2 separate regions of the Homo sapiens genome follow, and region 1 is linked to region 2. Evidence: fine-mapped expression QTL. A gene starts in region 2. The other region holds a variant in brackets. All regions are shown on one strand. Distances are between the middles of the regions. Region 1 has its middle 45 kb from the start of THAP12. Region 2 holds the start of THAP12 (THAP domain containing 12).

What was found. PIP is the estimated chance that this variant, and not a neighbour inherited with it, causes the effect. A credible set is the group of variants that fine-mapping cannot tell apart.
Region 1: its variant is the best candidate, but not a certain one, in a credible set for the expression of THAP12 in whole blood (TOPMed, PIP 0.71).

What each region holds. Positions count from the first base shown.
Region 1 is chr11:76,333,714-76,338,099 of GRCh38, reverse strand. No RefSeq gene overlaps it. Among named protein-coding and RNA genes, the nearest start is that of THAP12, 45 kb to the left of the region's middle. The variant C/T (reference allele first, on the strand shown) is at 1,989.
Region 2 is chr11:76,378,500-76,382,817 of GRCh38, reverse strand. It overlaps THAP12 (THAP domain containing 12), which reads left to right and starts at 1,686. Exons shown (of 5, transcript NM_004705.4): 1 at 1,686-2,070. The coding sequence starts at 1,982. It overlaps GVQW3 (GVQW motif containing 3), which reads right to left and starts at 1,495. Exons shown (of 2, transcript NM_001347885.2): 1 at 525-1,495. The coding sequence starts at 989. RefSeq lists a silencer at 1,408-2,337 and an enhancer at 1,980-2,481.

The DNA of each region.
Region 1 (4,386 bases), 45 kb after region 2:
GTGGGAGTGAGTGGGAGACTGATGAGAAAACCGGCTAGTTACAAGATGGCACAATAAAAGCAATCCTTGAAGGGGAAAGGCTCAGGAAAGCCTTCCCTGGAGTGGGAGGAGGGGGGCAGGCAGAGGTGCAGTGAGGCTTCTTTTAAAATTTGCACACCTGTATTTGACATGGACTGGGCCACAGCTGCCCCCTCCCATCATCCCAACTTATCCTACATTCAGTGTCCTGACACCACATGATGGAAAACTGAAAAATAGTCTCTGTCTAGCAGCTCAGAATCAGGACTGGGGAAAAGGAGGAAAGTAACTGCTGCTAGGGACCTACTATAGGCCAGGCACTTTAATCTACTTTAACTTAAAACTAGCCTGTGAGATAGATAGACCCATTGTAGAGTTAGGAGGAAATGAGGTTCAAAGAGGGTAGACAATTTGCTGATGTGACGGTTCCAGAGGAAATTGCTTATAAGGATAAGTAGGTCAGGCCAGGTGCTGTGGCTCATGCCTGTAATCCCAGTACTTTGGGAGGTTGAGGTAGGCTGATCACTTGAGCCCAGCAGTTTGAGACCAGCCTGGGCAACATGGTGAGACCTTGTCTCCATTAATTTTTTTTTTTTTTAATTACCTAGGCATGGTGGTGCACTTGTGTGGTCCCAGCTACTAGGGAGGCTGAGGTGGGAGGATCACCTGAGCCCAGGAGGTCCAGGTTGTGGTGAGCCATGATTGTGCCACTGCTCTCCAGCCTGGGTGACAGTGAGACCCTGTCTCAAAAAATAAAAATAAATAAAAAATAAATGAGGATAAGCAGGTCAATAGGCCTCCCCATTTTGGGTCCTTTTGGAGGTCCACCCTCCTATGGCCCCTGAGAGGGGCAGTATAGGGGTGTCCAGTGAGCTGCAGAATCTGGGTGGGAAGTGAGTACAGCCCAGTTTCCACAGAGCCCTACCAGTTTCTCTGGTCAAACTAATTCAGGTGCCCTCTCCTCTGGAGTGCCCATGGGGATGGTCTAAAGGACAAGAACAGGCAATGCAGCAAGACACTCCTAGATCACTGTCCAGTGGTGGCAGAGACTTGGTGGCAGTGTTCTCATTCTCAGAAAAGAATGAGAGACCAAGGGGAAGGCTGAGGAGAGGGACCTTTCACCTGTTTCTGGGGGCTGCCCAAGAGCCACCAACAGGCTACTGTGGGAACCTCAGTCCAACCTGTAGAGCTCAAGATCCTGCCTAAACCACCCACAATGAGTAGAATTGTGGACAGGAATAGCAAACTACTGCATGCCACCACTCATTAACCCGGTCACAATCACTCCCAATGATCTAATTCTCCACTTCCCCATCCACCTATCACTTCCTCCTCCCTCCTTTCAGTCATTCCCCTATTGCACTCAGTAATTTATTTCTTTCAATGAGTGGGGACACCCGTCAGGCACCTCAAGCACTTTGTTAGGATCCAAGAAGCCTTCATCATGGTGCAAAAAGCATGAGATTCAACCCTTGACAGATGACATAGAACTTTGGCAGAGAGAAACGAGTTAAAACAAAAGCAGTCCCGATGGAAAGAATGGTGGGAGCTAAGGCAGAGAAGTATTAAAGTCTCGGAGAAATGTTGGTGATCATTTGTCATTTACTTTGTCATTTACTTTGACAGAGCAGTGTTTCCCAGGAATGTTTGACCATGGAGAATCTCAGATCAGTGGCCTGAGGAATGCACTTCAGGAAAAGCTGGGAGGTGTGTGTGTGTGTGTGTGTGTGTGTGTGTGTGTGTGTGTACAGGAAGGTGAGGGCATTTGTACTTGCTTCTGGAGGTGGTGATCCCCAACATCTAATACACAGAATACTAGTCCTCAGGGATGCTGTATTAGTCTATTCTTGCATTGCTGTAGAGAACTACCTGAGACTGGGTAATTTATAAAGAAAAGTGGTTTAATCAGCTCATGGTTCCACATGCTGTACAGGAAGCATGGCTGGGAGGCCTTAGGAAACTTACAACCA[C/T]AGTGGAAGGCAAAGAGGAAGTAGGCACATCTTACATGGCTGTAGCAGGAGGAAGAGAGAGAGGAAAGGGGGAGGTGCTATGCACTTTCAAAAAACCAGATCTCATGACAACTCTGTCACAAGACAGCACTGGAGGATGTGCCTAAATCATTAGAAACCACCCCCATGATTCAGTCAACTCCCACAAGCCTTCCCCTCCAACACTGGATTATAATTCAACCTGAGATCTGGGTGGAGACACAGAGCCAAACTGTATCATTCCACCCCTGGCCCCTCCCAAATCTCATGTCCTCACACTTAAAAACACAATAATTACTTCTCAATAGTTCCCTAAGTTTTAACTCAAAAGTCCACAATCCAAATTCTCATCTGAGACAAGGCAAATCCCTTTCACCTATGAGCCTATAAAATCAGAGGCAAGTTAGTTACTTCTAAGATACAGTGTGGGTATAGGCATTGGGTAAATGCTGCCATTCCAAAAGGGAGAAATTGGCCAAAACAAAGAGGCTACAGGCCCATGCAAGTCCAAAATCCAGCAGGGCAGTCATTAAATCTCAAAGTTCCAAAATAATCTCTTAAGACTCCATATCTCATATTCAGGCCACATTGATGCAAGGGGTGGGCTCCCAAAGTCCTGGGCAGCTCCACCCCTGTGGCTCTGCAGGATATAGACCCCTTGGCTGCTTTCATGGTCTGGTGTTGAGTGCCTGTGGCTTTTCCAGCTACAGGGTGCAAGCTGTTGATGGATCTACCATTCTGCCATCTGGAGGATGGTGGCCGTCTTCCCACAGCTCCACTAGGCAGTGCCCCAGTGGAGACTGTGTGGGGGCTCCAGCCCCACATTTCTCCTCCACAGTGCCCTAGTACAGGTTCTCCATGAGGGCTCCACCCCTGCAGCAGACTTCTGCCTGGACATCCAGGTGTTTTCATATATCCTCTGAAATCTAGGTGGAGGCTCCCAAGCCTCAGCTCTTGCTCTCTGTGCACCCACAGGAAGCTGCCAAGACTTGCTTGCACTTTTTGAACAGTAGCCTGAGATACAGCTTGGCCCCTGTTAGGCATGGCTGGGACGCAGGGAGCAGTGTCCCAAGGTTGCGCAAGACAGCAGGGCCCTGGGCCCAGCCAGTGAAACCATTCTTCCCTCCTAGGCCTCCAGGCCTGTGATGGGAAGGGCTGCCGCAAAGATCTCTGCAATGCTATGGACGCATTTTCCCCATTGCCTTGGCTATTAACATGCTTTAATGTAATTAAGTATTTAATAAGTAAAGCTCCTCTTATGCAAATTTCTGAAGCCAGCTTGAATTCCTTCCCCGAAAATGTGTTTTCCTTTTCTACCACATGGCCAGGCTGCAAATTGTCCACATCTTTGTGCTTTGCTTCCCTTTTAAATATAAGTTCCAATTTCAAGTCATTTCTTTGTTTATGCAGGTGAGTGTAGGCTTTTAGAAGCAGTGAGGCCACATCATGAATGCTTTGCTGCTTAGAAATTTCTTCCACCAGATACCCCAGATCATCTCTCTCAAGTTCAAAGTTCAAGAAATCCCTAGAGCACAGGGGCATAATGCTGCCAGTCTCTTTGCTAAAGCATAGCAAGAGTGACGTTTACACCAGTTCCCAATAAGTTTCTCATCTCCATCTGAGACCTCTTTAGCCTGGACTTCATTGTCCATATCACTATCAGCATTTTGTTCACAACCACCACCCCCGTGATTCAATCACCTCCCACTAGGCCCCTCCTCCAGCACTGGGGATTACAATTCAGCATGAGATTTGGGTGGGGACACAGAGCCAAACCACATCAGATGGACTGGAAAAATGGTCCCAGCAGCAAGCGTAGAGAGCACCAGGCCTCAGATGGGTTCACCAGACCCAGCAGCATGTTAAAGGCCACCCCACCCCAAACCTATGCAGCAAAGACACTTGAACATCACTTAACCCTGCATGTACCAAACTTATTTCACCAAAAATCCTTTTGTGTCATGGAACGTCTTTATTTGAGGGAGTGGGGAATTGACTGGTTGTTTGTTTGAGACAGAGCCTTACCCTGTTGCCTAGGCTGGAGTGCAGTAGCACGATCTCGGCTCACTGCAACCTTTACCTCCCAGGTTCAGCCAATTCCCCTGCCTCAGCCTCCCGAGTAGCGTGCCGCCACACCTGGCTAATTTTTGTATTTTTAGTAGAGACGGGATTTGGCCATGTTGGCCAGGCTGGTCTTGAACTCCTGACCTCAGGTGATCTGCCCGCCTCGGCTTCCCAAAGTGCTGGGATTACAGGTGTGAGCCACCGTGCCCAGCTGATTGACTGTTTTTTGAAAAAGCTACCATGGGCTTATGGTATTAATATATTCCAAACAGTGCACTAGGGTGCACTTTGAAGCGTTTTCCTCCCACCCTTGGCT
Region 2 (4,318 bases):
ACAGATTCCAGGAGATCCTGTTCCTCTCTTCTCACTGGCATGATCCTCTGAGGCAGAAGGTTGAGAACAAAGGAACAGGACAGCCACAACAAGCTAAGGTCTGGGCAGAGAAGAAATCCAAACTTGTTGAGCAAAAGAAATCAAGAACAAGCAAATACCAGAAGGGAACAGCCAAAAGTTTTTCAAAGTTATGGAGAACAGCAAGGAAAATGGTCCAAGAGTCCAGCAAAGAGTAATGAGGAGGGCCATGGCACATAGGGAGGAGTGGTGAAGACTGAAAAATACGTGAGCAGCCAAAGAAGGTGCCTAACAGTGAGGCAGCATCCTAGTTCTGGTTCAGCTAACTCACATTCCTCTCACCATGGGGTGAACCAATTCTCAGCTACCCTGGGGGGAAGGCTTGTTGAAGATGACGCCTGCAGAAGCTGACTGGCAGAGTAGTGGACTCTGGGATGGGATACCGGCAGGGGCATTTCCCCACCAGCTTCACCCTGGAGATAACTCCATGTTTCAGAACCTGTTACCTTTTTCCTCAAACATGAGCTATTTTTCCTAGTTTCCTTTGAAAGATCGGACCGAAAGTCAAGTTTTCGTGGTTTAGGCTCACCCTTCAAAACACCCGAAATAACTTTTGCAGAAATCTTCCTCATGTTCAAGTTTTCTTTCAAAATGAGCCTAACAGTTTCTTTGTCTAAATTTAACTCTTCAGCCATCATCCTCACGGTTAACTGCCTGTTTGAACAAACCAAGTCCTTGACCTTCTGGATATTGTCATCTGTTCGGTGGGTGACTGGACGCCCACTTCGGGCATCATCTCGAACATCTTCCCGTCCTTCTTTAAACCTTTTGTGCCAGTCAAAAACTCTGGCCCTTGACATGACTTCATCCCCATAAGCTTCTTTTAAAAGATGGTGGGTCTCACTTGCAGACTTGTTCAATTTCACGCAAAATTTGATACTAATCCTTTGTTCTAAATAGCGGTCACTCATTCTGGCACTGAACAACACAGGAACGTTTAACAGGCCACGACTGTAAGGGAAAGACGGACAGATCAATCTTTATAGGGCTGCAGGTGTAATCATATCGCTCTTCTTGCTCTTCTAGAAGCCTCGCCGGGAAAGAGTAATTGCTTTTATGAATTTTTGTCCCTCAGCTTCCAGTCGAGGCTGGGGAGATCCGTTCTGGGAAGCCAACAGTCGCTGCAAAGCTGGGAAAAATTAAATCGCCTACAACCACGTCTGCATCAAACCAGTGCACGCACATCTGCCGAGAGTTTGCCAGTCACCAAGGTCGCTCCGATTCCGCGGCCCTTAAGGAGTATATGGCGAATTCTGCAAGAAAGGCCTAAGTGGTGGCAAATTAAGCAAGCAAGAAGAGATGCATCGGTGATGTAACGTGCAAGCTCGCCCTAGATCTGCAGAAACCCGCGCACGCCAAACCTACCGGAGCAGCCCAGGAACCGCCTGCTCTAGCGTCCCGGGAGACAGGCGCGCATGCGCAATTCTCTCTCCCCGCGGATTAGACTGTGCGCAGTCGCACTGCGGCGGCGCGCGCCAGGTCCCGCCTCCGCCTCGCCACACCCCGGCAGGCGCGCTTCCTTGCGCGTGCCCGCCTGCTGAGAAGGCGGAAAGGAGGGGCGGGGGAGGAAGGCTGAGGGAAGAGAGGGCACCCCCGGGCGTCAGGGTGCATTGTGGGAAGGAGGCGGCAGCGTCTCGGGCGGGCGGGAGGTGCACCAGCGGCGGCGGCGGCGGTAAATCCTCCCGGCCGCTCACAGCACTGTGGAGCCGCGTCCCCAGCCCGGCCTCGGACCGCGGCACCCCTCCTGGCCCTCGCGGCTTCTAGCCCGCCCGCCCCTCCCCCGCGCGTCGGCCCTGCCGAGCCGGCCGGCCGGCCTGGCTCCCCTCCCCGGCCCCGACGGGCGGGCGGACTGCCCTGAGGAGGCGGGGAGGGGAGGGCTGGGCCGGCCGGCGGGCGGGCGACGATGCCGAACTTCTGCGCTGCCCCCAACTGCACGCGGAAGAGCACGCAGTCCGACTTGGCCTTCTTCAGGTTCCCGCGGGACCCTGCCAGGTAAGCGGCGGGCGCAGAGCGGGCGGCCCGGGCCCACCTTCGCGGTGAGCGCTGCCAGCCGCCGGCCCCTGGCGGGCTCCCGGGCTGGCTGAGAGGGGCGCAGGAGGCGGGCGCAGCGCACTGCCGTCGACCCCAGCGTTGGACCGAGATGGGGAGCCGGCCCCGAGCCGTGGGCGGGCGGGCGTCCGGGGACCTCGGAGCACGTGCGCTGGTGGGGGCTCTGCGCGGAGGACACCACCCCAAACGCGAGGGAGCTGGGGCGGCGCGCGGACGCGGGATGCTGTGGGTTCTCGCCGTGGCTCACTTGCTGTGTGACCTCGGGGGAGTCGCTTTCCTCTCTGGGCGTTAGTTTCCTTAGCTGTCAAAAGAGAGCAGGACTCTATGGTTGTGGCCACTGGGGCCTTTCCCTCTCCTTGCCACCACCCCCGGGACAGTGTTTCTGTTTTGAGTCCCGCTACCTTCTTTCATCTCATCGCAACTGCTTTCTCCTTCGGACTTGTCATTGCACGGTTCAGGATTCATTTTCTGGCTGTCACCGTTACTCATTTTCTCGCTTGGGTATTGTAGGGATAACAGAGGGTGTACGCGTGAGGGCGTGGAAATTGGTATTGGAACCTCTTCCTTCGGATAACCCCCACACACTGACATATTTAGGGAATGATAGCATAGGGACTGTGTTTGAAAGGCTGAGATGTTTCATAGGCCTGTCTTGTTGGTTCATTCATTTAAAATCAATGCCTACTATGTGCCGAGCGCAAATGTTAGGTGCTGGGAGTTCATGGGTGAATAAGGGTGTCACTGCTTGCAGAAAGCTCTCAGTCCAGTAAGGGAACAGGTGCAGCAACGGGCGACTATAATTTATGTTATTTATTAATTAGTTCAATTAATTATTGAAGGTCTACTTGTGTTGGCATTGTTGTGAGCAGTGGGGGTTACAGATGAACAAATCGAAGTCCTTGCTTTCATGAAGATTACATTCTAATGGGGGGGGAATAAACAAGTAAAATACGTAGTGTGTCGGATGATGATAAATACTGTGGAGAAAAATAAACAAAGGTTAGAGGGTAGGGGAATAAGTAGTATCAAGGGACGCACAATTGCTATTTTAAATACAGTGATTAGAGAAGGCCTCACTAAGAAGGTGAATTTGAGCAAAGACCAGGTGAAGGGGCCAGCCATGGAGATACCTTGGGCAGCAGCATTCCAAAGAAGGCAAAGACAGGGCAACCAGGAGTCCAGGGAGAGGGACTGGGAGAGAGGTGAGATGAGACCAGAAAGGTGTGTGTATGGTAGGGGCAAATTCTTTAGGTAGGACCTTGTAGGTCTTGGAAGGCACTATGGTTTTTATTATGAGTGAAATAGGAAGTCATTGAAGGGTTTAGAGCAGAGACTTAAATTTTAACAGGATCAGTGGCTGCTCATTAGATTGTGGGGAGGCAAAGGTGAAAGCCGGAAGACCAGTTAAAAGGCTGTTGTAATAATCCAGATTAATAGAGGAGGAGATGGTAAATTTGAGATATGGTTTGAAGGTGAAGCCAACATCATTTGCTAATGGTTTGGAGGTAGATTGTAAAAGAAAAAGAGAACTTAAGGACGACTTCAAGATTTTAAAAATCTATGTTGGCCAGGTTGGTCTTGAACTCCTGGCTTCAAGCAGTCCTCCTGTGTCGGTCTCCCAAAGTGCTAGAACAGGCTCTGAGCCACCGCGCCCAGCCGACTTCAAGATTTTTAACGTGAGCATTTGCTGAGATAGGGAAGACTGGGAAGAGCAGGTTTGGTAGAGGAATACTAGAAGTTTGGGTTTGAGAGACCTGATAGACATTCAAGAATAGATGTCTAGGCCGGGCATGGTGGCTCACACCTGTAATCCCAGCACTTTGGGAGGCCTAAGCAGGCGGATCACTTGAGGTCAGGAGTTCGAGACCAGCCTGGCCAACATAGGGAAACCCTGTCTCTATTAAAAAATACAAAAATTAGCTGAGCCCAGTGGTGCGTGCCTGTCCAGCTACTCAGGAGGCCAAGACGTGAGAATCGCTTGAACCCAGGAGGCAGAGGTTGCAGTGAGCCGAGATCGTGCCACTGCACTCCAGTCAGGGTGACAGAACAAGACTCCGTCTCAAGAAAGAAAGAATAGATGAAAAAAAAAAAAGAATAGATGTCTTTCTTCATACCATATACAGAAATGAACTCCAAATGGCCTATACTTTTATTGAGATCAAAGGCCTAAATATAAGAGCTATGTCATTAA